7 linked regions of the Homo sapiens genome follow. The protein of the gene in region 1 purifies or fractionates together with the protein of each later gene. This does not show direct contact. Each region holds a gene or a part of one and is shown in the gene's direction. Other genes may lie near its edges. The genes, in order: TACR3, TTYH3, PRKD2, RAB3B, TVP23C, MFSD8 and FARP2.

Region 1 (3,500 bases):
GATATATTTTATAAGTTAAAGAAAACCTTTCTGAGGTTGACACTGAATCATGGTGCCTTCTGCATGGACTTACTGACTCATTTAGCTAAGAATATAGTAAACAGTATATATTTCCCAATTTAGACTACAATTGAAGTGTGAAAACTTCAATTATTTAATTTTGAGTGTTTTCTATCCCCACTGAATATAAACTGAATTATATCAACCTAGCCTAAATGGAAAATATATTCAATTCGCTTTGTTCCTGTGCCTAAAATCAAAAGACCCGTGATCTTGAAAATAATTGCAACTTTGACTTGGGCACATATGGCTTTTGTTCAGCTGTAGCAAAATGGTTGCAGCCTCTTATGACTCTGAGAAATGACAGATATTCCCTCAATGAACGCCTGTATCTTACAAATGGAGAACCTTAAGCTAATGGTCACACAATTGTTATAATAAAAGGCATTGAGTTTTCCTTGAAGTGTTCAGCACTCATTTTGTACTGGAAAAATTACTTACTTTCTATTTTCACGATTTAAATAATATTAGTAAGTTTACTAGATTTGACTGTGAGATCACCAGTTCTGGTCTTATTCTGAAGCACATTAACTTCTGATTTGCTACAAAGTCCTGCGAAACTGTTTTCTAATTTGCCAGAAATCCATCTTCTAGTTCTACACATTTCCTTCTTGCCTAGAAGTCTACTTTACCACTACCAGTACCTGTCTCCTCACCCCTATACCTCCAACACACACACACACACACACACACACACACACACACACACAAGATAAAATTATTTGTCAGTGAAGAGTTGCTTTTCTCTCCACCATCCTTCCCCAATTTGCCATTTTGAAAAATAACATATAAATGTAACACTTGCCTCAAAGATGATAAGCTTTTCCAAGATTATGCAGTACAGTCAAGATTCAAATCACTGCAGTTAGCTCCAGGGCCAGTGATTCTCTTCACCTCTACACTATTATGACACCTAACAAGTTGTGATGACTGCAGGGTTTGATTAGACAAAGTCATTACCTTTAATCAAATTAGAATTTAGTACTAGTTTAAACTGTTTATCTTACATGTATATATAACATATCTTACATATATATATATTCTATGTTTTACTTGAGAAAGTAGAAGGTAGAAAATTATTAATAGAACAGTTATTACAATACAAATATTTTGATTTCCATTCATTTACGGCATATAGTACTTGATGTATGGTCATATTAGAAAATAGTTACATATTTTCTTTCATTTTCTAAGCACATGCTTTGAGATTAGGTTAGAAATTATAGGAAGTTTTATTATAACATATAGTAAATGAAAATTTCAGGGCATATGATCCAGTATTGATCTGAGTATTTAATTAAATATTTTTTTAAACCACATACACTGTTTCTTGTAAACCTTAAGGGAGTGTGTTAGTCTGTTCTCACATTGCTATAAAGATATACCTGAGACTGGGTAATTGATAAAGAAAAGAGGTTTAACTGGCCCATGGTTCCCCAGGCTATACAGGAAGCATAATGGCTTCTGCTTCTGGAGAGGTCTCAGGAAACTTACAATCATGACAGAAGACAAAGCAGGAGCAGTAGTCTTAAATGGCAGGCAGGAACAGGACCAAGAGTGAGAGAGGGAATGTGCTACACACATCTGAACAACCAGATCTCACAAGAACTCTATCAGGAGACAGCACCAAGAGCATGGTGCTTCACCATTCATGAAAGATCCACCCCATGATCCAATCACCTCTCTCCAGGCCCCACTTCCAACATTGGGGATTACAATTCGACATGAGATTTGGGTGGAGACACAGATCCAAACCATATCAAAGAGTAATTACTGTTTTATCTAATTGTTCAAAAGCTTTAAGAAAGATAGCAAAAAAGTTGTTCTGTAAATCCAGTGGCATACCTTACATGAATAATTATTAAAAGGAGCGTTCAACAAAACTGTGTAAGAATAGTAATGGCCAAGTAGATAAAAATTGGTCTTCTATGCTACCCTTTGTTGTTTTTAATTTATTTGGTAATCTTCTATTTCACTTTTACATAAACCTAATTTATGCAAAGTACTCAAAGATCCTCTAGGAAGAGCTTTTGAAAATTATTCTGAACGAATAAAAATATAGAGTCATGAGAAATACTGAGGTCTTAATCTAGTAACAGATTATCTAAATGTATTGTGGTAAATTTTGCATCATTACCAACATTATAGATATGAACTCTGCTAAATTTTTAAAAAATCCTTTTTCGGTCTTTAATTTGAGTACCAAGTGCAATATCCTTTCTCTGCACTCTAGGAAAAGTCACTTTCCATGCAGTTAATACTCTTTATTAGTGTTATAGTTATACTTGACTCACTATCACTAGTTACCGCAAATGATGAACTTTTTAGCCTAAGATCAACTGTTACATATTTTTGAATTATTTACAAAATAGTAACTAAAACTATGGTAAAATTAACTTTCAGGAAACTTATCATAACTGTTTGGCTCTTTCTAAAATTTGTAATTCTCATTCAATAATTTTAAAATATCCCATTTGCATCCACTAAAATTACTGCTCTAGTGAGTTGTCAAAGTTCAGTTAAAATTATAGTGCCAATTCTTATAAAATTGTGAGCGTATAGTGAAAGCAATAAATATATATTAATTGAATGGGTAATAAGATTATCACAGAATCATATGTAATCAGAGGTTGCTCTTTTATAACTAGCTGAACTCCGGCTGATATCAAGGTTATATTAACCACAACAGAAAAGTGTATGTCAAACAAGAATTTATGGCATATTTAACAGGCATAAAAATCCTTAATATATAACATATTCTTATTTATTAAAGAAAAAGTATATCCCCAGTGTAAAAAGAACAAAAGACATAAACAAAATCCAAAAAAAAGAAAAATGTCTAACAAGCATGAAAGTATCATTTGCTTATATCCCATATTTTCATTTCCTTATGTGCTATTTGCTCTTAAAGCCACTCAAATCTCATTATTTTCCCAACACTGTCCAAAGAGCCACACTGAGAAATCCAGTGGACATTTCAGTCCTTGACTTCTTTGACCCATGAGCAATATTCCTCACAGGTGGCTACTGCCTAGAAGTCTCACCTCTCGGCTTCCAACTTTTCTGATATCCTTCCTCCTTAGCCTCTCTTCTTTGGCTGTATTTCTGAATCTCTGCCTATACATAATGATTAAATGCAAAAGTTGCTTTATACTAAGTTCTGGGCCTGTTTTCTTCTTCTTTATTTCCTGTCCCCAACCAATCTCATCCAGAACCATGACTTTATTTTCCACTGTGATTGAAGAGCTCCTATTTTTTTCTGTCTAATTGATTTTCTGTCTTTTTTTTCCTTATTATTATTATTATTATACTTTAAGTTCCAGGGTACATGTGCACAATGTGCAGGTTTGTCACGTATGTATACATGTGCCATGTTGCTGTGCTGCACCCATTAACTCGTCATTTACATTAGGTATATTTCCTAATGCTATCCCTCCCCC
Region 2 (3,500 bases), on another chromosome or scaffold:
TGGGGTGTGTTTTGGGGATCTGAACTGGGATATGGGGGACTCGTGGTGGGGGCACCTGCAGTGGGGTATGCACAGGAGGCCTGTGTATCTGGATCAAAGGGAGCCAGATGTGGGTGAGGTGAGGCCTCAGATGAGGGAGAGGCCAGTGCCGTAGCAAGAGCTCTGAGTCCCCAGTTGCTGAGCGAGGGTTCAGCACAGGAGGGCTTGATCTAGCTGACGTTATCAGGCCCCTTGGGCTGCTACGTGGGCGGCGGGATGCGGGGACCCACGTGAAAGTGGACACTGTTGCCTGTTCAGGAGAGGGACCTGGGGGACAGGAGGGGCGGGGCCCCAAGAGCCACGTGGCCCTCCAGTCCTGCTTCCAGCTCAGATCTCTGAGCCCCACCCCACCTAGGAGAGGGATCCATCTGGGCCCTGGGCTGTGGGCAGCTCTGGCTGAGGCCAGGCCACAGGAAGAGCCCCAGCCCATGTGTGGGCTGACCCCTGATGTGCACTGGGACCTGCCTTCTGGCCTGCAGCCCAGCAGGTGGCACGGCCCCCACCCTGGCCTGGGGGCTGCTGACTGGCTGTCTCTGCCCCAGGGTCTGCCTGCTGGGAGTCCTGGCCCTGGTCATCAGCTGGGGCGCGCTGGGCTTGGAGCTGGCTGTGTCCGTGGTGAGTGGCAGAGGGGGTGAGGTCCCCGGCTGCTGGACCTGGGCACTGGGGGAGGGACGAGGGGAAGCCACACTCCTCTCCCCTCCCATCTTCCCGGGCACTGGGTCCCGAGAGCGGTGGGGACCCACCATGGGCACAGTCCACCTGTAACCCCAGATTCACAGTCCACCCTCCTGAGTTGAAAGCAGACTCCAGGGGACGGGTTCTACCCCCGAGAGCTTCCCTTTAGGCCCAGCTTGGTCAACCCCTCTTGCTTGCCCACGCCCACCTCAGGGCTCCAGCGACTTCTGTGTGGACCCTGACGCCTACGTGACCAAAATGGTGGAGGAGTACTCGGTGCTGAGTGGGGGTGAGTCTGTGTCCACGGCCGTGTCCCAGCGGGTTCCCCAGGGTTGGGCTGAGCCAAAAGAGTGGGGTAGCTGAGGCCGAGACACCCCTGCCCTGTGGGTCCATGGTCTCAGGGAGACAGGTCCCAGGCCAAGATGCTAGTGAGCAAACAGGACCACCTTTCCCAAGTGGGAGGCTCTGCAAAGAATGACAGGAACTATGTGGGGTGGCGGGTGCCCGCGTGGCAGGGGGAGCGGCAGGTGACCCAGGGCTGCTTCGAGTAGATGCCCAGGGGAGGCCAAATGGGTGGCATTAAAGTACAGCCAGAGGTCTGGGTGCAGTGGCTCACACCTGTAATCCTAGCACTTTGGGAGGCCGAGGCGGGTGGATCACCTGAGGTCAGGAGTTCAAGAGCAGTCTGGCCAACATAGCAAAACCCTGTCTCTACTAAAAATACACAAATGAGCTGGGTGTGGTCGTGGGTGCCTGTAATCCCAGCTACTCCGGAGACTGAGGCACGAGAATTGCCTGAACCCAGGAGGTGGAGGTTGCAATGAGCCGAGATCGCACCACTGCATTCCAGCCTGGGCAACAAGAGTGAAACTCCATCTCAAAAAAAAAAAGTAGAGCCAGAAGGACGCTGCATCTCTTCTAAGAGCCCCGAGGCAGGAGGCAGACCCGAGGGGAGAATGGAGGGTGGGAGGCCAGTGGGGCTGAGTCTCTGTGGCAAGCTTCGCTTTATTCCAGGGGGAGGCCATTGGAGGGAGGGAGGCAGGGGAGAGATTTGACCCATGATTGAAGGTCCCTTTCAAAGCTTCCTCAGGCCTCAAGGGTTACAAGAGTGGGTGAGGAGGATACCTCAAGCAGGAGACAGCAGGGGCTTGAATAAATGGAGCAAAAGGTGGACAGGGATGGGCTTTGAGGGCGGAGCTGGCAGGACTTCCCGGTCAGTTGGATGTAGGGAGCGAGAGGGACGGAGCAGGAGTTGGCGTCCCTGGTTTCAGCAGCTCTGTGCTGCGGGACCATAAGCTGTACTGTGGGTGGGGGAGCAGGTCTGGAGGTGGGGGGCAGGGAGCTGGGGCATCGGGAGTTTCGGCCCCCTCGGGAGGTTTGCGATGTGTGTCGGACGGCACAGAGGCAGGTGGACGTGGGAATCTGGAGATCGGGGTGCCGTCAGTGTGTTAAGCTTCTCAGGCCCCCCTTGTGGAATTATTGTGTGTTCCCCAATAGGAAATAGAAGGCCTGTCCCTGTGGGGGTGAGGGTTACTGAATGACCTTGAAGGTGACCATCCTGCCACCCTTTGTCCCTGGAGGCCACAGGATTGGCTTGTGGGCTGGTTTTTTACCTGCCTTTGTTGAAGGAACCACTTCCACCAAAGCCTGAAGAGCCTCCTGGAGGAAAAGTCATCTGCCGCCCACTGACCTTGTCCTCGGGGGCGAGGGTGGAGGGGTGGGCCCGCTCTGCTAGGGGCGGGGAGGGCTGGTGACCGCTCAGTGCTACCCACCACTGTCCTTGGCCCCGGTGCTATCATCCTGGTCCCTCCAGGTCCCTACTGTAGCCGGCGGCCTTTGGGGGGATCTCATCAAGTATGAGCAGCGCCCCCTACACGTGTACATGTACACACGTAAGTGTGAGCTCCAGCCTGCGGGCCAGACAGCCCCTCCCAGAAGGCAGCAAGGCCAGCCACGCTGGCTTCACTGCACAGGCGGCCACAGTGATGCCTGGTGCTCTCCTATGTTGTTAAATACTTTCATCATTTTTTGAACTTTTAAAATGTTTTTTTTTAATGTTCTTTTATAATTGGAAGAACTGAACTTGTAAAGAGTTCGGAAGGTGGAACCCAGGCAAGGGGCAGTGTGTGGGGACTCTGGCTTGATGGGAGCCCAGACCCCACTGCCACACACACAGACATAGGCATGTGTGTAAATGCATGCAGACACACATGCGAAGACATGTACACACAGACATGCACACATATAAACACACAGACACATGCACACCGGCACACGTGCACACGAAACGTGCACAGAGACACATGCACGTGTAAGTAAACATGCAGACACATGCACATGTGTAAACAGGTGCACACAGACACACATGCACACATGTAAACATGCACGCAGATGCCCTGAAGATATGCGTGCAGACACAGGCAGACGTGCACGCAGTCTCACAGGGACAGCTGTTGCAGCTCAGCCTTCCCTGATGTCTCTCCGCAGACATCCTGCAGTACTACCTGGCCTGCTCGCCCCGCGCCGCCAACCCCTTCCAGCAGGTGAGAGCCTGGGAGGCCGGGACTGGGCTTCAGGAGAGTCTGAAGCACATTGCTGTGTGTGGAGGGGCCCAGCAGGCCTGGCGCCTGGCTCCTCAGCCTGCAGGACTGGGGAACTGGGGGAGGGAGCTGGACAAAGGCTGTGTGGATGTCACCAACAGCCCCTGGGGTTACCATGCCGGTGACCTGGTGACCTGGCTGAGAGCCTTTCGGGGGGACCTGCTCAATGCACCCGCATCGCTGGGA
Region 3 (3,500 bases), on another chromosome or scaffold:
AGAGACCAGCCTGGCCAACATGGTGAAACCCTGTCTCTACTAAAACTAGAAAAATTAGCTGGGTGTGGTGGCGGGTACCTATAATCCCAGCTACTCGGGAGGCTGAGGCAGGAGAATCATTTGAACCTGAGGGGGTGGAGGTTGCAGTGAGCCGAGATCATACCATTGCACTCCAGCCTGGGTGACAGGGTGAGACTCCGTCTCAAAAAAAAAAAAAAAAAAGAAATCCAGTTTCTCCAATATCCTGTGTTCCAGATCATCATGCAGTCCAAAGTATACTTGTATTATTTAAGGACTCTAGGCCTGCAGATACTGATTCAGTGCATTAAAAGCTCTTATAAATATTGCCATCGTCCACACACCATATCCAACTCTTGAGGTCTCAGCATATGCAGTCTTTGTCATGATACAGCCCTGGTGTCATCAAGTCCTAATGGGTTATCAGCACAGACTTCACTGGTGCAGCATCACAGATGATGGTCCCAGTTCCTATGGTGGCAAGAGAACCCCAAATGACTACATTCCGACAGGAGTTTAACTCTATCCTGAGACTCATTCTGAGAGTTATAGATAAGATTCTGAAATTCTGGAAGGCACATGAGTGATTCAAGGCCAACACTGGGAAATGGTTCCTGTGTGCAAAGACCATTTGCCCTGCTGAAGCTCTTCTTGCAGGGCCAACACCGTTCTCCAAGCTTGCCTCCGTGATTACAGCATGCAGCCAAGACAGTGCCTACAATGAGGAGGTGTGGAACTGGAAAGCCTGGAGCAGGCGGGTACCAGAAGGGCTCCCAAAGGCTGGAGGAACATTCTTCACTCCAGAATAGAAAGCGATCCTGGAATCGTTTGGAATCACTGGAGATGTATTAGAGCACACATACAGAACGTCCAGTGGGAAACAGGGAGTTGAGCTGATTTCTCCATGGATGAGGATTTTAAAAGATAAAATAGGCAGGGCACAGTGGCTCATGCCTGTAATCCCAACACTTTGGGAGGCTGAGGTGGGAGGATCACTTGAGCCCAGGAGTTCAAGACCAGCCTGGGCAATGTAGCGAGACCCCATCTCTACAAAAAAATAAAAATAAAAAAATTATCTGGGCATGGTAGTGTATGTCTGTGGTTCTGGCTACTCAGGAGGCTGAGGCAGGAGGATTACTTGAGCCCAGGAGTTGAAGGCTGCAGTGAGCTATGATTGTGCCATTGTGCTTCAGCCGGGGGTACAGGGAGATCCTGTCTCTACAAAATAAAATAAGACAATAAGAAGTCATACTTCTGCCTAGTATGGTACAATGGACCTGAGTACAACTGAGAACTCTTTTTTTTTTTTTGAAACTGAGTCTCGCTGTATTGCCCAGGCTGGAGTGCAGTGGCGTGATCTCAGCTCACTACAACCTCTGCCTCCTGGGTTCAAGTGATTCTCCTGCCTCAGCCTCCGGAGTAGCTGGGATTACAGGCGTGTGCCACTACACCCGGCTAAGTTTTGTATTTTTAGTAGAGATGGGGTTTTGCCATGTTGGCCAGTGTGGTCTCAAACTCCTGACCTCAAGTGATCCGCCGGCCTTGGCCTCCCAAAGTGCTGGGATTACAGGCGTGAGCCACCATGCGTGGCCCACACTACTAAGATTTAATCACACTACTTAGGGATTGCCTGGATTCCAGGTCTACAGAAAAGAGAAAGTGGGGTACAGGGGGTGAGCAGACCTGGAGGGATAGTGACCTTAGGGGTGGGGGTGAGGAGAGGCATTTTCTTTTGGAAAGTTGGGGTTGGGGAAAGAGGGGGAACCAAAGGGGCCTCAGAAAAAGGAAGGTCAGGGTTAGAAGGGGGAACAGGTGTCTCTAGGGAGATGGACAGGAGTTTTGGGGAGGACTAGAAGGAGGTGCTTACCATAGAGGACTGGGGCTGGGTCAGAGCTTTGGCGGGGACTTTTGAGGCATCCATTGTTGCAGTGGGAAAAGGTGGGGTGTGAGGCGCGTTCAGGGCCTGGGGGGCAGATGGGGTGATGTCGGGGCTACAAGCTGGAACTAGGGGTGGAGCTTTGGAGGGAACCTTTGAGGTATCCCTTGTTGGAGTGGGAAAATTTTGGGTGTGAGGCGTGTTCAGGGTCTGGGGGACAGATGGGGTGATGGCAGGGCTACAAGCTGAAACTGGGGACAGAGCTTTGGGGGGAGCCTTTGAGGTGTCCCTTGTTGGAGTGAGAAAAGGGGTGTGGGTGTGTTCAGGGTCTGGGGGACAGATGGGGTGATGGTGGGGCTACAAGCTGGAACTTGGGGCAGAACTCTAAGGAGGGGTGGGCCTGAAGGGGCTGATACACTTACGGATAGTAGTGCCTTTTGGAGGAGATCGTGCTGGCGGGGGGTGATGGGACAGGACCAGGTGAGAGATTGGGTGGAAAGGGCACAACTTCTCAAGAAGAGACCTAGGAGGGGCAGACGCCATGTCTCTTACTCTCTGGCGCCCCCTGCAGGCTGCGGGCTGAACTACCACAAGCGCTGTGCCTTCAGCATCCCCAACAACTGTAGTGGGGCCCGCAAACGGCGCCTGTCATCCACGTCTCTGGCCAGTGGCCACTCGGTGCGCCTCGGCACCTCCGAGTCCCTGCCCTGCACGGCTGAAGAGCTGGTGAGGAGATGGGGGATGGGACGGGTTGGTGGCTAGGGGGGTGACTTGGCCCAGGCATGGGGCCAACGCACTGATGTGTCCCCTCCATTCTTGCCAACGACAGAGCCGTAGCACCACCGAACTCCTGCCTCGCCGTCCCCCGTCATCCTCTTCCTCCTCTTCTGCCTCATCGTATACGGGCCGCCCCATTGAGCTGGACAAGATGCTGCTCTCCAAGGTCAAGGTGCCGCACACCTTCCTCATCCACAGCTATACACGGCCCACCGTTTGCCAGGCTTGCAAGAAACTCCTCAAGGGCCTCTTCCGGCAGGGCCTGCAATGCAAAGGTTAGCTGGGCCTGTCGGGGAGGACAGACAGGGTCAGAACCTCCTTCCCGCCCCAACCTGGTCTTGTGGCAGGACACAAGGATCTGAGCCTTGGGACCCCAGGGCCTCAGAAGGGGAGGGCCCTGAATCCTAGTGTTCTGGGACCTTTGGAATTCTGGAATCTTAGAACCTCAGTTGTGTGTGTGTGTGTGTGTGTGTGTGTGTGTGTGTTGTTGTTGTTTTTTGGAGACAGGGTGTCACTCTATCACCCAGGCTGGAGTGCAGTGGCGCAATCACGGCTCACTGCAGCTTCAACCTCCTGGGTTCAAGTGATCCTCCTGCCTCAGCCTCCCAAGTAGCTAGGACTACAGGTGGTGCCACCACACCCAGCTAATTTTCTTTTCTTTTTTTTTTTTTTGAGACGGAGTCTCACTCTGTCGCCCAGGCTGGAGTGCAGTGGTGTGATCTCGGCTCACTGCAAACTCTGCCTCCTGGGATCAGGACATTCTCCTGCCTCAGCCTCCTGAGTAGCTGGGACTACAGGCGCCCGCCACCATGCCTGGCTAATTTTTTTG
Region 4 (3,500 bases), on another chromosome or scaffold:
CCTCCGCCTGCCAGGTTCAAGTGATTCTCCTGCCTCAGCCTCCAGAGTAGCTGGGATTACAGGCAGCCACCACCACGCCCAGCGAATTTTTTGTATTTTTAGTAGAGATGGGGTTTCACCATGTTGGCCAGACTGGTCTCGAACTCCTGACCTCGTGATTCACCCGCCTCAGCCTCCCAAAGTGCTGGGATTACAGGCATGAGCCACCGCGCCCAGCCCTTACTTTCTTTTCTTTTTTTTTGAGACAGTGTCTTGCTCTGTCACCCAGACTGGAGTGTAGTTGTGCAATCTTGACTCACTGCAGCCTCCGCCTCCTGGGTTCAAGCAATTTTTGTGCTTCAGCCTCCTGACTAGCTGGAATTACAGGTGTGCGCCACCACACCTGGCTAATTTTTATATTTTTAGTAGAGACTGGATTTCACCATGTTGGCCAGGCTGATCTTAAACTCCTGAGCTCAAATGATCCGCCTGCCTCGGCCTCACAAAGTCCTGGGATTATGGGCCTGAGCCACGGCACCTGGCCTCAAAATCTCATATTTTTGTAGTACTTTTGGTACTACTAAATTTTTGTAGTATTTAAGTACAGTCTTGCATTGCTAATGACAAGGATATGTTCTGAGGGATGTGTCATTAGCCGATTTCATAGTTGTATGAACATCATAGAGTATACTTACACAAACCTATATGGTATATGGTATAGCTTACTATACACATAGTCTATATGGAATAGATAGCCTATTGCTCCTAGGCTGCAAACCTGTACAGCATGTTACTGTATTGAATGTAGCAGGCAATTGTAACACAGTGGTAAGTATTTGTGTAGCTAAACACATCTAAACATAGAAAAGGTACAGTAAAAATATGATGGTTTTTTTTTTTGAGACCAAGTCTGGCTCTATCACCCAAGCTGGAATGCAGTGGTGCAATCTCAGCTCACTGCAACCTCAGCCTCCCGAGTAGCTGGGATTACAGGTATCTGCCACCATGCCTGGCTAATTTTTTGTATTTTAATAGGGATGGAGTTTCATCATGTTGGCCAGGCTGGTCTCTATCTCCTGACCTCAAGTGATCCACCCACCTTGGCCTCCCAAAGTGCTGGGATTACAGGTGTGAGCCACTGCACCCAGGCATAATATGGTATAAGAGATAAAAAATGGTACACCTATATAAGACACTTAACCATGAATGGAGCTTGCAGGGCCGGCAGTTGCTCTGGGGGAGTCAGTGAGTGAGTGGTGAGTGAATGTGAAGGCCTAGGACATTACCATACACTATAGGAGACTTTATAAACACTCTACACTTAGGCTACACTAAATTTATTTAAAAATATGTTTCTCCAATAATAAATTAACTTTGGCTTACTATAACTTTTAAACCTTATAAACTTAAAAAATTTTTAAAACTTCTTAGACTCTTTTATTTTTTATTTATTATTATTATTATTATTTTTTTGAGATTGAGTCTTGCTCTGTCACCCAGGCTGGAGTGCAGTGGATCTCTGCTCACTGCAACCTCCACCTCCCGAGTTCAAGCAATTCTTGTGCCTCAGCCTCCTGAGTAGCTGGGATTACAGGTGCGCACCACCACGCCTGGCTAATTTTTGTATTTTTAGTAGAGATGAGGTTTCACCATGTTGGCTAGGCTGGTCTTGAACTCCTGACCTTAAGTGATCTGCCTGCCTCGGCCTCCCAAAGTCTGGGGTTACAGGTCTGAGCCACCATGCCCAGCCATAGACTCTTTTATAACAACACTTAACTTAAAGCACAAATACACCGTATGGCCTTTTTTGAGATGAAGGCTCAGTGTGTCACCTGGATTGGAATGCAGTGGTGCAATCATGGGTCACTGCAGCCTCAAACTCCTTGGCTTGAGCGATCCTCCCACCTTGGCCTCCCAAAGTGTTGGGATTATAGGTATGAGCCACTGAACCTGGCCTTTTCTTTCTTTTCTTCCTTAGTTTTTAAATTTATGTTTAAAATTATTTTGTTAAAAAGGAAGACACAAATACACACACCTGAGCTTAGGCCTACACAGGGTCCAGGAGCATCAATATCACTGCCTTCCATTTCCATGTCTTGTCCCACTGGAAGGTCTTCAGGGGCAATAATAGGCATGGAGCTGTCATCTCTTATGGCAATATCTTCTTCTGGAATACCTCCTGAAGGACCTGCCTGAGGCTGTTTTACTGTTAACTTTTTAAAAAATATTAAATATAAATAGAAAAAGTACACTCTAAAATAACAATAAAAAGTGTAGTAAGTAAATACAGAAGCCAGTAACATAGTCATTTATTATCAATATCAAGTATTATGTATAGCACATAATCATATGTGCTATACTTTTATACAACTGGCAATGCAGTAGGTTTGTTTACACCAGCATCAACACAAATATGTGAGTAATGTGTTGTGCTACAATGTTACCATGGCTACTATGTCACTAGGCAATAGGAATTTTTCAGCTCCATTATAATCTTATGGGACCGCCATTGTACATGTGGTCTGTCATTGACTGAAATGTTGTTATGCAGTTCATGATTGTACTTTTAAAATTTAAGTGATTTGCTAAATGATAACATACCATATATTCTAGCCTATACCTTGTACATATGATGTCAGCTATTACAATATGCATAGAAGGTATAGACTAGAATGCATGGTATGTTATTTATATAGAAATAAAAAGTATAAATAGGTCTCTTTGCTTATATATGCAAGGGCTATCTCTGAAGGATATATAAATTGATAACATGTATGCCTCTGGGGAGGGGAACTGGATCAGGAATCAGAGATGGAAGCAAGACTTACTTTTCAGTGTAAACCTTTAGGTTTCATATTACTTGTATTTTATGCTAGGAATTAAGAAAATAATGCAGCTGGGTGTGGTGGCTCTCGCCTGTAATTCTAGCACTTTGGGAGGCCACGGAGGGCAGATCACTTGATCCCGGTTTAAGACCAGCCTGGACAGCATGGTGAAACCCCATCTCTACAAAAAGTACAAAAATTAGCTGAGCATGGTGGCACATGCCTGTAGTCCCAGCTACTCGGGAGGCTGAGGTAAGAGGATTGCTTGAGCCCAGGAGATCAAGACTGTAGTGAGCCAAGATAGTGCCATTGCACTCCAGCCTGGGCGACAGAGAGAGACCCTGTCTCAAAATAAAATAAAATAAAATAAAAATAATAATAATTGAGCTACAGCTGGTAAAAAAGGTAATACTTGCAAATAGGATATGCTTGAATTATTTTCCGTAAGTATGTATTACCTTTTAAATTAACAAATAAAACATAGTATTAAAATAGATGGCTTTTTTTTAAAGTACAATTTCCATTTTATTTTTCTCCAGGAAATAGTCCATCTTCAGTCTTTAAGGACTCAGCTCCTTACATGGGCTTTGGTGGGGGTCGTGGGGCAGCACCTACAGGTCTAAATCAGGGTGGGGGTGTTTGGTCCTTGCGGGCTTCATGAGATCGATTCCTGACTACTTTGCTGTGAATTGCACA
Region 5 (3,500 bases), on another chromosome or scaffold:
TTACTGTGCTGCTGATTTTTCTGTGCCATATTCTAACCTACATCAGCTTTAAAGTCAAATAAACAAACAAATGTGACTAGCAACCATAGACCCTACAATGTTGCTTCTAATCCATACCATGGGTTTTGCTTCAGGCTTACCTGTAGGTGTGTTGTATATAATTTCTAGATAAGGCCCCAGTGTAGTTTGTCCACAAATACCTAAAAAATACCTACCTTTTGAAAAGGCTCCTATGGATGCTTTAAGGCAGTGTTTCTCAACCAGAGACAAGCTTGCCACCCACTGAATATTTGTCAGTGTCCAAAATTGTTTTTGGTTGTCATGACTGGAGGTGGGAGGAGTGTGCTATTGACATCTAGTGGCTAGAGGGCAGGTATGCTGCTAAATATCCTAACACACAGGACGGCCCCTCTGCAACAAAGAACTACCTGACCCAAAATGTCAGTTGTGCCAAGGTTGAGACACCCTGCTGTAGGGGATAGAAAGGAGTGTAAGAAATGGTTTCAAACTCAAGAACAATGATTAGAGAGATGGATGGATGGATAGATAGGTACATAATAAATAGATAAGTAAGCATAATAAAATATTAAATATGGACTCTAGATGATAGATATTTGGGTATTCACTGTAAAATTTAACTGTGTGTGTTCGAAAATATAGTAAAATAGTGGAGAAAAAAATCAAAGGCTGATTTTGGAGTTTCAGAGACATATACTGATTCAAAGACTAGTAAGATGTTACAACCCTATTCACATCCACCAATGTAGCCATTTTTAGATCTTTTAATTCTTTTTTTTTTGAGACGGAGTTTCACTTTTGTTGCCCAGGCTGGAGTGCAATGGCATGATCTTGGCTCACCGCAACCTCTGCCTCCTGGGTTCAGGTGATTCTCCTGCCTCAGACTCCCGAGTAGCTGGGATTACAGGCATGCACCACCACGCCTGGCTAATTTTTTTGTATTTTTAGTACAGACGGGGTTTCTCCATGTTGGTCAGGCTGGTCTCGAACTTCTGACGTCAAGTGATCTGCCCGCCTCAGCCTCCCAAAGTGCTGGGATTACAGGCGTGAGCCACTGCGCCTGGCCATCTTTTAATTCTTAAAGATATCTGAAGTGGTTGGCTTGGTGATGGCCAGTTTCCGTAGGCCGCATAATGCTGAGAAGGAAGATTTCAAAGGTCTGTTTTCTTTAGGTTTTTCTTTTGTCCAGTCTTCTTTGGCTTGCATTTCTTTGAATTTCTTCTGTTACTTTATGCTCCAAAGTATTTAGTACATACTGCTCACAGTTTTGATACACGTTTCTTTTTGTTGTTCATAAAATTTCTGTTTAGCCAAATAGAACATGCTTTCCAGTCAGTTCTTCCTGGTAATTTCCAAATTCTTAAAATTTTTCTGGGTTTAGAGTTTTAAAAAATGCGATCAAAATAGTTTATTTTCTGATAAGGTTTATTTGTTTGTTTATTTTTGTTTTTAAACAAGAGCTTAAAAAATGGCACCCTTTTATCCTTGGCAAAATTACTTATAGATAGCAAAACAATGGAGATATGAAGCAAAATTAAGAAGTCAAGAATAGGGAAATTATTAAGTGGACTTGGGATAAGCAGGGTTCTGAAACAGTTAAAATGGAGATGTGTCGTAATTGTTATAAATCTCAATGTACTTACTAAAAAAACAAAAAATCAATCTTCATCTAAACCCCTGGGTGTCCAATCTTTTGGTTTCCCTGGGCCACAGTGGAAGAAAGAATTATCTTGGGCCACACATAAAATACACTAACATTAGCTGATGAGCTTAAAAAAAAAATCGCACACAAAAAAATCTCATAATGTTTTAAGAAAGTTTACGAATTTCTCTTGGGCCGCATTCAAAGCTGTCCTGGGCAGCATGAGGCCTGTGGGCAGAGGGTTGGATAGGCTTGCCCTAGGTGATGTTAATGAAGATAAAGAAGAGGTAGAGAAGGGAAAATAATTTAAAGGTATGCTTAAATGCTAAAGCTTATATTGGTTTTTATTTTATTCTTCACTCTGACAAATTGAGTAAAAAAGGTTAAATAATGGCTTTAAAAATTTAATGGCAACTATGGCTGGGCGCGGTGGCTCATGCCTATAATCCCAGCACTTTGGGAGGCTGAGGCGGGTGGATCATGAGGTCAGGAGATCGAGACCATCCTGGCTAACATGGTGAAACCCCATCTCTGCTAAAAAAAAAAAAAAAAAAAAAATGAGCCGGGCATGGTGGCAGGCGCCTGTAGTCCCAGCTATTCAGGAGGCTGAGGCAGGAGGCGGAGCTTGGCAGTGAGCCGAGATCGCGCCACTGCACTCTAGCCTGGGCAACAGAGCAAGACTCCATCTCAAAAAAAAAAAACAATAATGGCAACTATTAGTAAAATTTAAAACCAGTCGTGTATCTTCTGCAACATTGGAGAAGATGGAGCAAGTAAAACAGTTCATAGAGCAAAAGAAGGAAAACAAAGCAACTGTCAAGGAAGCTTAAATCAGAGAGTACATGTATAAAGTGATGTAAGTAATAGCAAATTCATTATAATAGGAAATGTAATTTGATTAAACTACCCATTTAAAGACAAGAATACTAAGATTGGTCAGAAATCAAAGTCCAAACAAAAGATCTAACCAAATTAATGACATTAGAAAAAACAAAAGAAGGCAAAGATAACATCAGGCAAAAATAAAAGAAGGCAAAGATCAACTCAAACAAAAAGAAACTTGGCATTGTATTATTATCAGATGAGATATGGATCAGAGTAAGAAAGCACTAAGAGGAACAAAAAAAGGTGATTTTATGAATCACAGTGAAGATCATTCACAGAGTAAAATTATATCAAACTATGTATAGTAAAAAAATTGGAAATATTAGAAAATAGAAAAGCATTATGATGAGTTTAACAAACTACTATCTTAAACAAACCAAAGTGCCAAAAAATAAATAAGTTCTGAAGGATCTGAATGAAATAATTGGCAACATCAATTTGATAGCAGTATTTGGGACTTTGTATGACAGAGAGAATACTTTCTTGTTAAATGCCTGTGGAACATTTACAAAAATTGACTAAATATCACTGTGAAGAAAATCAAAATAAAATTGCCCAAAGCACCTACATTTTCTACTCCAAAGAAACAGAACTAGAAATTAATAGAAAGTAGTTGTTGAAATTGGAATTCTTTTAAAAAAGCGAACTACTACATATCTTGGGTTTAAAAGGAAGCAAAAACTGTAAATATAAGTTATTTATACCTTAATGGTGATCATTTACAGTTAAACTTTCTGAATATGTCAAAAACTGAATTCAGAGGGAAAATAATAGACTAAAGCCTTTTATTTTAGACAAGAAAGAGGGAAAATAATGGACTACTTGAGTCCAGAAATTTCAAAAACAAGCAATAAGTGTGAGAAATCAGGAAAATAAACTAATAAAGATAAAAGCAGGAAATAAAGAGTTAGAAAATGGAAACAGAAGAGTTTGAAAGTATTCTGAGAGCATTCTT
Region 6 (3,500 bases), about 24 Mb from region 1:
CGGGAGGCGGAGTTTGCAGTGAGCCAAGTTCACGCCACTGCATACCAGCCTGGGCGACAGAGCAAGACTCTGTCTCAAATAATAATAATAATAATAATAATAATAATAATAATAATAATAAATAAAAATAAAAAATAAAATACTGGAAAACTGAATTCAGCAGCACATCAAAAAGCTTATCCACCACGATCAAATCTGCTTCATCCCTGAGATGCAAGGCTGGTTCAACATACACAAATCAATAAATGTAATCCATCTCATAAACAGAACCAATGACAAAAACCACATGATTATCTCAATATATGCAGAAAAGGCCTTTGATAAAATTCAACACTCCTTCATGCTAACAACACTCAATAAACTGATATTGATGGAACGTATCTCAAAATAATAAGCGCTATTTATGACAAACCCACAGCCAGTATCATACTGAATGGGCAAAAACTGGAAGCATTCCCTTTGAAAACCGGCACAAGACAAGGATACCCTCTCTCACCTCTCCTGTTCAACATAGTGTTGGAAGTTCTGGCCAGGGCAATCAGGCAAGAGAAAGAAATAAAGGGTATTCAATTAGGAAATGAGAAAGTCAAATTGCCTCTGTTTGCAGATGACATGATTGCTGTATTTCTTAAAAACTAGTACTTGCATCTAGAAGCTTGATGAAATTTGGGTTCAATTTTTTGGCAAGAATACTTTATAGGTGGGAATATGTGCTTATATCAGAAGAAATATAATGTTTTGTTTATCTCTTCTTAACATGTAAGTAGCCACTGATTATTCCATAGATCCATTAATTCATTAATGAATCATTACAAAATTCTGGTATTTTAATTCTATCATTCCTTTATTTATTTGCTAGAATACTTACCATGAAGAGAATCTTTCCCTCACCAACTATTTGGTTAACCTGAGCTATAGTTGTATAGGAAAGGCAGGATAAAGGCTTGATTATTTTCTTTTGTTTCCCTAACATCCTCAAAAACTGACCAAAGAGTACTTTATTTTAATATACTATGAATTCATAGATTATAACACTTTTTTTTTTTTTGGCGACAGGGTCTTGCTCTGTCACCCAGTTTGGAGTGCAGTGGTGCCATCACAGCTCATTGCAGCCTTGACCTCCTGGGCTCAAGTAATCCTCCTGCCTCAACCTCCTAAGTAGCTAGAACTACAGGCACCAAATACCACTCCTGGCTAATTTTTAAAATTTTTTGTAGAGATGGGGTCTTGCTATGTTGCCCAGGCTGGTTTTGAACTTCTGGCATCAAGCAGTCCTCCCGCTTTGGCCTCCCAAAGTACTGGGGTTATAGGTGTGAGCCACTACACCAGGCCACAGATGATAATACTTTTTGTGTGTTTCAATCCATTGCCATTATTATTCTGTTTTGGTACTCACATTGTCACATTTTTGGCCAGCTTCTTCAAATTGGCTGAGTCAAAAAGACTCATGACCTAGTAGTCACTGATAACTTCTGTGCTTTTTGCTGTGAAAGATCTGAGCTCATCTACTTTTTGTGTCCCAGACCTTAAGTCAGCCATTTTTCAGAGGAGTCCTGGTTATTTTTAGTGGAAAATTATATTTAGCATTCTTTTTAATGGATATATCACTAAAAGTACAAGATATTATTTTTAGTTTTTAAAATTATGAAAGTAATGAAGCTATGTTATAATGTTTCATTTTAAAATTACAGAGTTTCTGTTCTTTAACAGGATTGGCGAGCGTGCTATTCTACTGGGAGGACTCATCGTTGTATGGGTTGGCTTCTTTATCTTGTTACCTTGGGGAAATCAATTTCCCAAAATACAGTGGGAAGGTATAGCCATACATAATTCTATAATGTTAACCTCTGTTATTTATCTAAAATCAACAAGTAATGCACTGCAATGGTTTTGTTTTTACAGATTTGCACAATAATTCAATCCCTAATACCACATTTGGGGAAATTATTATTGGTCTTTGGAAGTCTCCAATGGAAGATGACAATGAAAGACCAACTGGTTGCTCGATTGAACAAGCCTGGTGCCTCTACACCCCGGTGATTCATCTGGCCCAGTTCCTTACATCAGCTGTGCTAATAGGATTAGGCTATCCAGTCTGCAATCTTATGTCCTATACTCTATATTCAAAAATTCTAGGACCAAAACCTCAGGTAAGCCAGGTACCCTGACATTGCAATTATAGAAAATATACTTGTAAGCACTCAACATTTTTTGCTGCCATTCTCTATTTTTACACAGACTGATTTGAGGGATTTTTATCATATTCAGCATTTAAAATTTTTAAAAATCCCACAACTTCTATAAAGTTCATTCTTGGGTAGGTTATGTGGGTTATAGTTTTGGATACAGAAGTTGTAGGAGTGGCATTGTGGTAGAGTGTAAAGTGGCACAGTGGAGTCAGCCAAATATGGCTTCAAACCTCTTGAACAAGTTACTTAAACTTTCTGAGTTTCAGCTTCTACCTTTGTTAAACAGGCATAACACCTGTCATCGAAACTTGTGAACATTACAAATGATGTATTTAAAGCACCTACCTCAGTGACTGGCATGTAGCAGGTACAAAATAAATGTTAGCTTTAAAAGGTATTTTAATCAATTTTATTATTCCCAGGGCTTCAGCAGACAGTAAGTTTTTCCCTTTACACTCCTTTTATTTTTTTTAATCTGACTTAATATTAAATGCTATATTTATAGGAGGCATTTTATGTTTAATTTAAAAGTAAAAGATGCAGAAATGATTCTTGTAAGTTTGCTGTAGTTTGGTAATACCATTTCTTTGCTTTTAAATAACTAAACCCCAATATCAATCTGCTTGTCCTCCATTTCACCCCCAACAGGGTGTATACATGGGCTGGTTAACAGCATCTGGAAGTGGAGCCCGGATTCTTGGGCCTATGTTCATCAGCCAAGTGTATGCTCACTGGGGACCACGATGGGCATTCAGCCTGGTGTGTGGAATAATAGTGCTCACCATCACCCTCCTGGGAGTGGTTTACAAAAGACTCATTGCTCTTTCTGTAAGATATGGGAGGATTCAGGAATAAACTAGCTAAGACTGTGATGGAAACTACTTGCTGTGTGGCACTTCCTGGTCTAAAGCTCTGCTAGACAATTGCGGTGAGCCAGTCTCCAAGAATCAGACTACAGATATTGCAGATTTTGAAGAACAAGAACATATGTTGAATAACAGAGAGAATTCTACATGTCATTGTGAATAGTAGGTTATATAAAAACATACTAGATGATAATTTCCTTACCTCAGAAATGAAATATTATTCTTATAATACCTTTTTGTGGTTGCATGAACTAATGAGTGAATGGACAATGATGAATAAATGTGAAGCTGTATTCTTAATACCCACTGCAGAAGTGTCATTAAAATAATATACAGTGGAACCAGAAAGAGGGTTCTGTAAGAATTAGCCATAGCAGAACAAAATTATAGAATTTTAAATACCTCTACCCAAGTAGAGGTATTTTTATTCAGACACCTACTTTTT
Region 7 (3,500 bases), on another chromosome or scaffold:
GACTTTATCAAATGGAAGCCTGTGTCTTTGCACTCGAGTTCTTTCTGGGCATTCTGCTCCATTCCTGTCTGTCCAGCATCAGTCCACTCTCTCTCATTAGTGGTGTCATATGAGATAGTCACTGTTTGGTGAACACATTCCATCCCTTATTCTGCCTCCTTTTAAAAAAGATTCTTTGCTATTCTCAAGCATTTAATTCTTCCAAGTAATCTTCTAAGTCATTGGACAAATTCCTTACAAAAACACCATGGAGATTTCAGTTGAAATTGCATTAAATTTTTGTGTTAACTTACGGGAAGACTAACATCTGGACAATGTTTTGCCTGCCCTTGCTTATGTTGATTCAGATTTTTGATGTCCAGTGAGAGGCTTGGTTGGTGTATCAGGCTCTGCACAGGGAAGCTGTCCATTCTGTGGAGTTGTTGGTAACTGGCTGGTCCTGGGGACAGAGAACTGGCCCTCGTTCCTGACTGTTAAGGGAAGGATGATGGCTCTTGGCTTGAAAAGATCATCTTTATCATGTTAACACAGTTTCCTTCTGTTTCTAAGAGGTATTATCAGAAATAACACCTTGGATTTTGGCAAAGGCATTTTCAGCATGTAGAGAATGGATTTCCCTTTTTCTCTTTGACTTCTGATAGGATGAATGTTATCAATCAGCTTTCTAATGCCGAACGATCCTTGCATTCCCCAAACAACCTTACTTGATCGTGGGACAATTCCTTGTTACATGCTTTTAGATTAGATTTGGTAATATTTTATTTTGCAATTATTTCATCTAACTACTTAAAATTAAAATTAATCCACAGTGGGTTTTCTTTGAATCTAGCTCTGTTAGGTTTTGGTCTTTGGTTCATAAATGAATTGTCCAACTCCCTTTTGGATAATCAAAATGCTCAACATTTTTTCCTTTGCTTGATTTTCAGCTAATAGTGCTGGACCCCCCGGTGAGTATTTGGGTGCCCTCTGGCCCATGGCTCACCCCCTGGGGTGCAGCTGCCATGGCGCAGGGATACCAGTGTCCTCCTTGGCCTCTTGTAGAGTCTGTGTGCACTTGGACAGCACTGGGCTTCCAAGCCCCACCTAGCATTGCCAGCAGTCACCTTGTGTCCTGCTCAGGCTTAGGCTGTCAGTTCCTTCTTGGCCACAAGACTTGGACCGTTTCTCCCACCCACAGGTGGAAGAAAGTGATAACGAGTGGTCTGTTCCACACTGTTTCACCATCTACGCGGCTCAGAAAACAATCGTGGTGGCAGCCAGGTAAGGGTCTTCCATGTCTCCATCCTGAGCAGCCCTGGATGGAGGGGTGGGGACTTCCTCGCCATGAGCCTCTGAGTCCTCTGAGCTGTGAGGAGCCATGTAGCCTCATGGGGTTGTGCCCCCTTTGACTCTGAGCTCTGCTTCCAAGTCACACAACCAAAGGAGCAGCCTCGCCCTTGTCAGGGGCAGGGCTGCTTGCCAACCTGACAACACCCCACAAGTGGCAGGCCCCAGTGCTGTGGAGCCGCTCCCTCTGCCCTCCGGTTCACAGTGCCTCCAAAGACAGGACGGGTGAGTGGGCAGGCTCCTGTGGTCTCCCAGGGCACAGGCGCTTCCCCAACCCTCACGTCAAGAAGTGCCAGCAGCTAGTGGTCAAAGCCCCAACAGGGCAGCTTACACCCAGCCCAGCCAAACACTGCCTCCCAGTCCCAGTGTGGTATAGACTCACATGAGGCAGCCCAGGCTATGGCACAGAATCAAGTGGAAACAGCTCCCTCCTCCCCAGATAAGATCAACAGAAGGATGACACTGAGCTCATTTGGCGGCCAGGATGCAGGGGCCCCTGCATGGTCACCAGCACCACACTGTGCTCTGTGAGGAGTCTCAGCTCTGACTCTGCAGCGCCCTGGCCAGCATCAGAGCACAGGGCACTCAGTTCCCACCAGGAAATGCTCACTTAATCATGAACCAGGGCCAATCTTGCATTTCAGCATCACAGATGTAGAGAACATCATTTCAGGAACAAATACCCCTGCAGACCCCCTGTTCTAGGACCGGGGCCCTGCCCTGGCACCCACAACCCTGTCACAGCACCCTGGAGGTCAGGCTGATGCAGGTCCCTCCCAGCTCTCCTCCCTGCTATTCTCGCTGGAGGGGACACGTTTCCCAGTCCTCTCACCAGGCAGGACAAAGCAGAATGTGAGAGAACAGGTGCCCTGACGGCTCGCCCTCCCTTGAGGGCTGGGGCCCTACACAAGGAAGAGCAGAGCCACTGAGCCTTGCCCTTCTCCCTGCAGCACTCGGCTGGAGAAAGAGAAGTGGATGCTGGACCTGAACTCCGCGATCCAAGCAGCCAAGAGTGGCGGTGACACGGCCCCTGCACTGCCAGGCCGCACTGTGTGCACTCGTCCCCCCAGTGAGTGCTGGCCACAACCCCCCAGGAGACCTCCACTACACCTAAGGAGGCTTTTTTTGGAAACTGTTTTCCTTGGTCCCCATTGGCCCGCTAAGTTCCCACACAATCCCCTTCCACAAGGAATGTTCCAGGCTACGCCTCATGCCTGGGCGGGAAGAGGTGTCAATCAGCTGCTCTGGCAGAAGCACCTGTAGTTTTGCTCTCAGCCAGCAGCTGGCCTAGCACCAAGGGCTCCCCATTTCCCCAGGACCCCCGAGAGGAACCCAAGGGGTGGAAGTATTTGGCAAGCAGAGGCCACAGGGGGTTCCCCCTGAGACGCTGCTGACTTCTCCCCAGGATCCCCCAACGAGGTATCTCTGGAGCAGGAGTCAGAAGATGATGCTCGGGGTGTCCGCAGCTCCCTGGAGGGGCATGGCCAGCACCGGGCCAACACCACAATGCACGTGTGCTGGTACCGGAACACCAGCGTGTCCAGGGCAGACCACAGTGCAGCTGTCGAGGTACGACCGCATGAGCACCACCTCAGTGCATCTGGAATGTTCCCAGCTGTCTCTGCACTTGGCTGCTGAGGAGGGGACCTCAGGAGGGTACCAGCAGGCAGGCTTGGCCCCAGAGGACTGCCTCTTACTCTCCCCTTGGTAGAAGTTGGTATGGAAAGTGCCCCTCATCCAGTCAAGCCCTCTTTGAAAAGGGTGTTTCAGGTCTGGTGTCTGATGAAGTCCAGCAGGCGGGGCGTGTCCTCAGGGCCTGGAGCTGGTGTGTAGTGGAGCTGAGAAAAGCCTTCCCAGACACATCCCCTGCAGCCCCCCGTCCCAGTGCCTCCAAAACCCTTCACCTCGGGCTTGGAGCTCGAGGCTCTGCCCAGGCACCCTGCCATAGAAGGTTGTCAGCTCTATCTCACTGCATGGGCCCGGTCTGCCATTGTGGGTCACCAGGTTCCTCAGCCTGGTGCCCCCACACCCTTCCCCAAGCCTGCTGTCTTACTCCACCCAGAGCTCTTGTCTTTTTTGCTGTCTCCCCATAATTCACCCCAGCCACAATCGGCTGGGCAGGGGCTCAGGAGCTACCCCAGCACCCCCGTGAGGGGGCTGAGCCCGAGCCTCTC

The links.
Region 2: the proteins of TACR3 (region 1) and TTYH3 purify together in Homo sapiens (affinity purification with mass spectrometry; one large-scale study listed by BioGRID and IntAct). This does not show direct contact.
Region 3: the proteins of TACR3 (region 1) and PRKD2 purify together in Homo sapiens (affinity purification with mass spectrometry; one large-scale study listed by BioGRID and IntAct). This does not show direct contact.
Region 4: the proteins of TACR3 (region 1) and RAB3B purify together in Homo sapiens (affinity purification with mass spectrometry; one large-scale study listed by BioGRID and IntAct). This does not show direct contact.
Region 5: the proteins of TACR3 (region 1) and TVP23C purify together in Homo sapiens (affinity purification with mass spectrometry, with the first as the bait; one large-scale study listed by BioGRID). This does not show direct contact.
Region 6: the proteins of TACR3 (region 1) and MFSD8 purify together in Homo sapiens (affinity purification with mass spectrometry; one large-scale study listed by BioGRID and IntAct). This does not show direct contact.
Region 7: the proteins of TACR3 (region 1) and FARP2 purify together in Homo sapiens (affinity purification with mass spectrometry; one large-scale study listed by BioGRID and IntAct). This does not show direct contact.

The regions. Positions count from the first base shown.
Region 1 is NC_000004.12:103,713,486-103,716,985, reverse strand, and holds part of TACR3 (neuromedin-K receptor), read left to right. Parts: intron 1-3,500. UniProt on the Homo sapiens protein: This is a receptor for the tachykinin neuropeptide neuromedin-K (neurokinin B). It is associated with G proteins that activate a phosphatidylinositol-calcium second messenger system.
Region 2 is NC_000007.14:2,648,986-2,652,485, forward strand, and holds part of TTYH3 (protein tweety homolog 3), read left to right. Parts: intron 1-581; coding exon 582-654; intron 655-927; coding exon 928-1,003; intron 1,004-3,201; coding exon 3,202-3,257; intron 3,258-3,500. UniProt on the Homo sapiens protein: Calcium-independent, swelling-dependent volume-regulated anion channel (VRAC-swell) which plays a pivotal role in the process of regulatory volume decrease (RVD) in the brain through the efflux of anions like chloride and organic osmolytes like glutamate.
Region 3 is NC_000019.10:46,703,615-46,707,114, reverse strand, and holds part of PRKD2 (serine/threonine-protein kinase D2), read left to right. Parts: intron 1-2,465; coding exon 2,466-2,620; intron 2,621-2,723; coding exon 2,724-2,946; intron 2,947-3,500.
Region 4 is NC_000001.11:51,980,701-51,984,200, reverse strand, and holds part of RAB3B (ras-related protein Rab-3B), read left to right. Parts: intron 1-3,313; exon of another isoform or gene 3,314-3,500. UniProt on the Homo sapiens protein: The small GTPases Rab are key regulators of intracellular membrane trafficking, from the formation of transport vesicles to their fusion with membranes.
Region 5 is NC_000017.11:15,549,984-15,553,483, reverse strand, and holds part of TVP23C (Golgi apparatus membrane protein TVP23 homolog C), read left to right. Parts: intron 1-3,500.
Region 6 is NC_000004.12:127,920,174-127,923,673, reverse strand, and holds part of MFSD8 (major facilitator superfamily domain-containing protein 8), read left to right. Parts: intron 1-1,710; coding exon 1,711-1,814; intron 1,815-1,902; coding exon 1,903-2,150; coding exon of another isoform or gene 2,151-2,159; exon of another isoform or gene 2,160-2,837; coding exon 2,838-3,044; 3' UTR 3,045-3,500. UniProt on the Homo sapiens protein: Outward-rectifying chloride channel involved in endolysosomal chloride homeostasis, membrane fusion and function. Conducts chloride currents up to hundreds of picoamperes.
Region 7 is NC_000002.12:241,488,785-241,492,284, forward strand, and holds part of FARP2 (FERM, ARHGEF and pleckstrin domain-containing protein 2), read left to right. Parts: intron 1-926; coding exon of another isoform or gene 927-947; intron 948-1,177; coding exon 1,178-1,260; intron 1,261-2,276; coding exon 2,277-2,395; intron 2,396-2,731; coding exon 2,732-2,895; intron 2,896-3,500. UniProt on the Homo sapiens protein: Functions as a guanine nucleotide exchange factor that activates RAC1. May have relatively low activity. Plays a role in the response to class 3 semaphorins and remodeling of the actin cytoskeleton.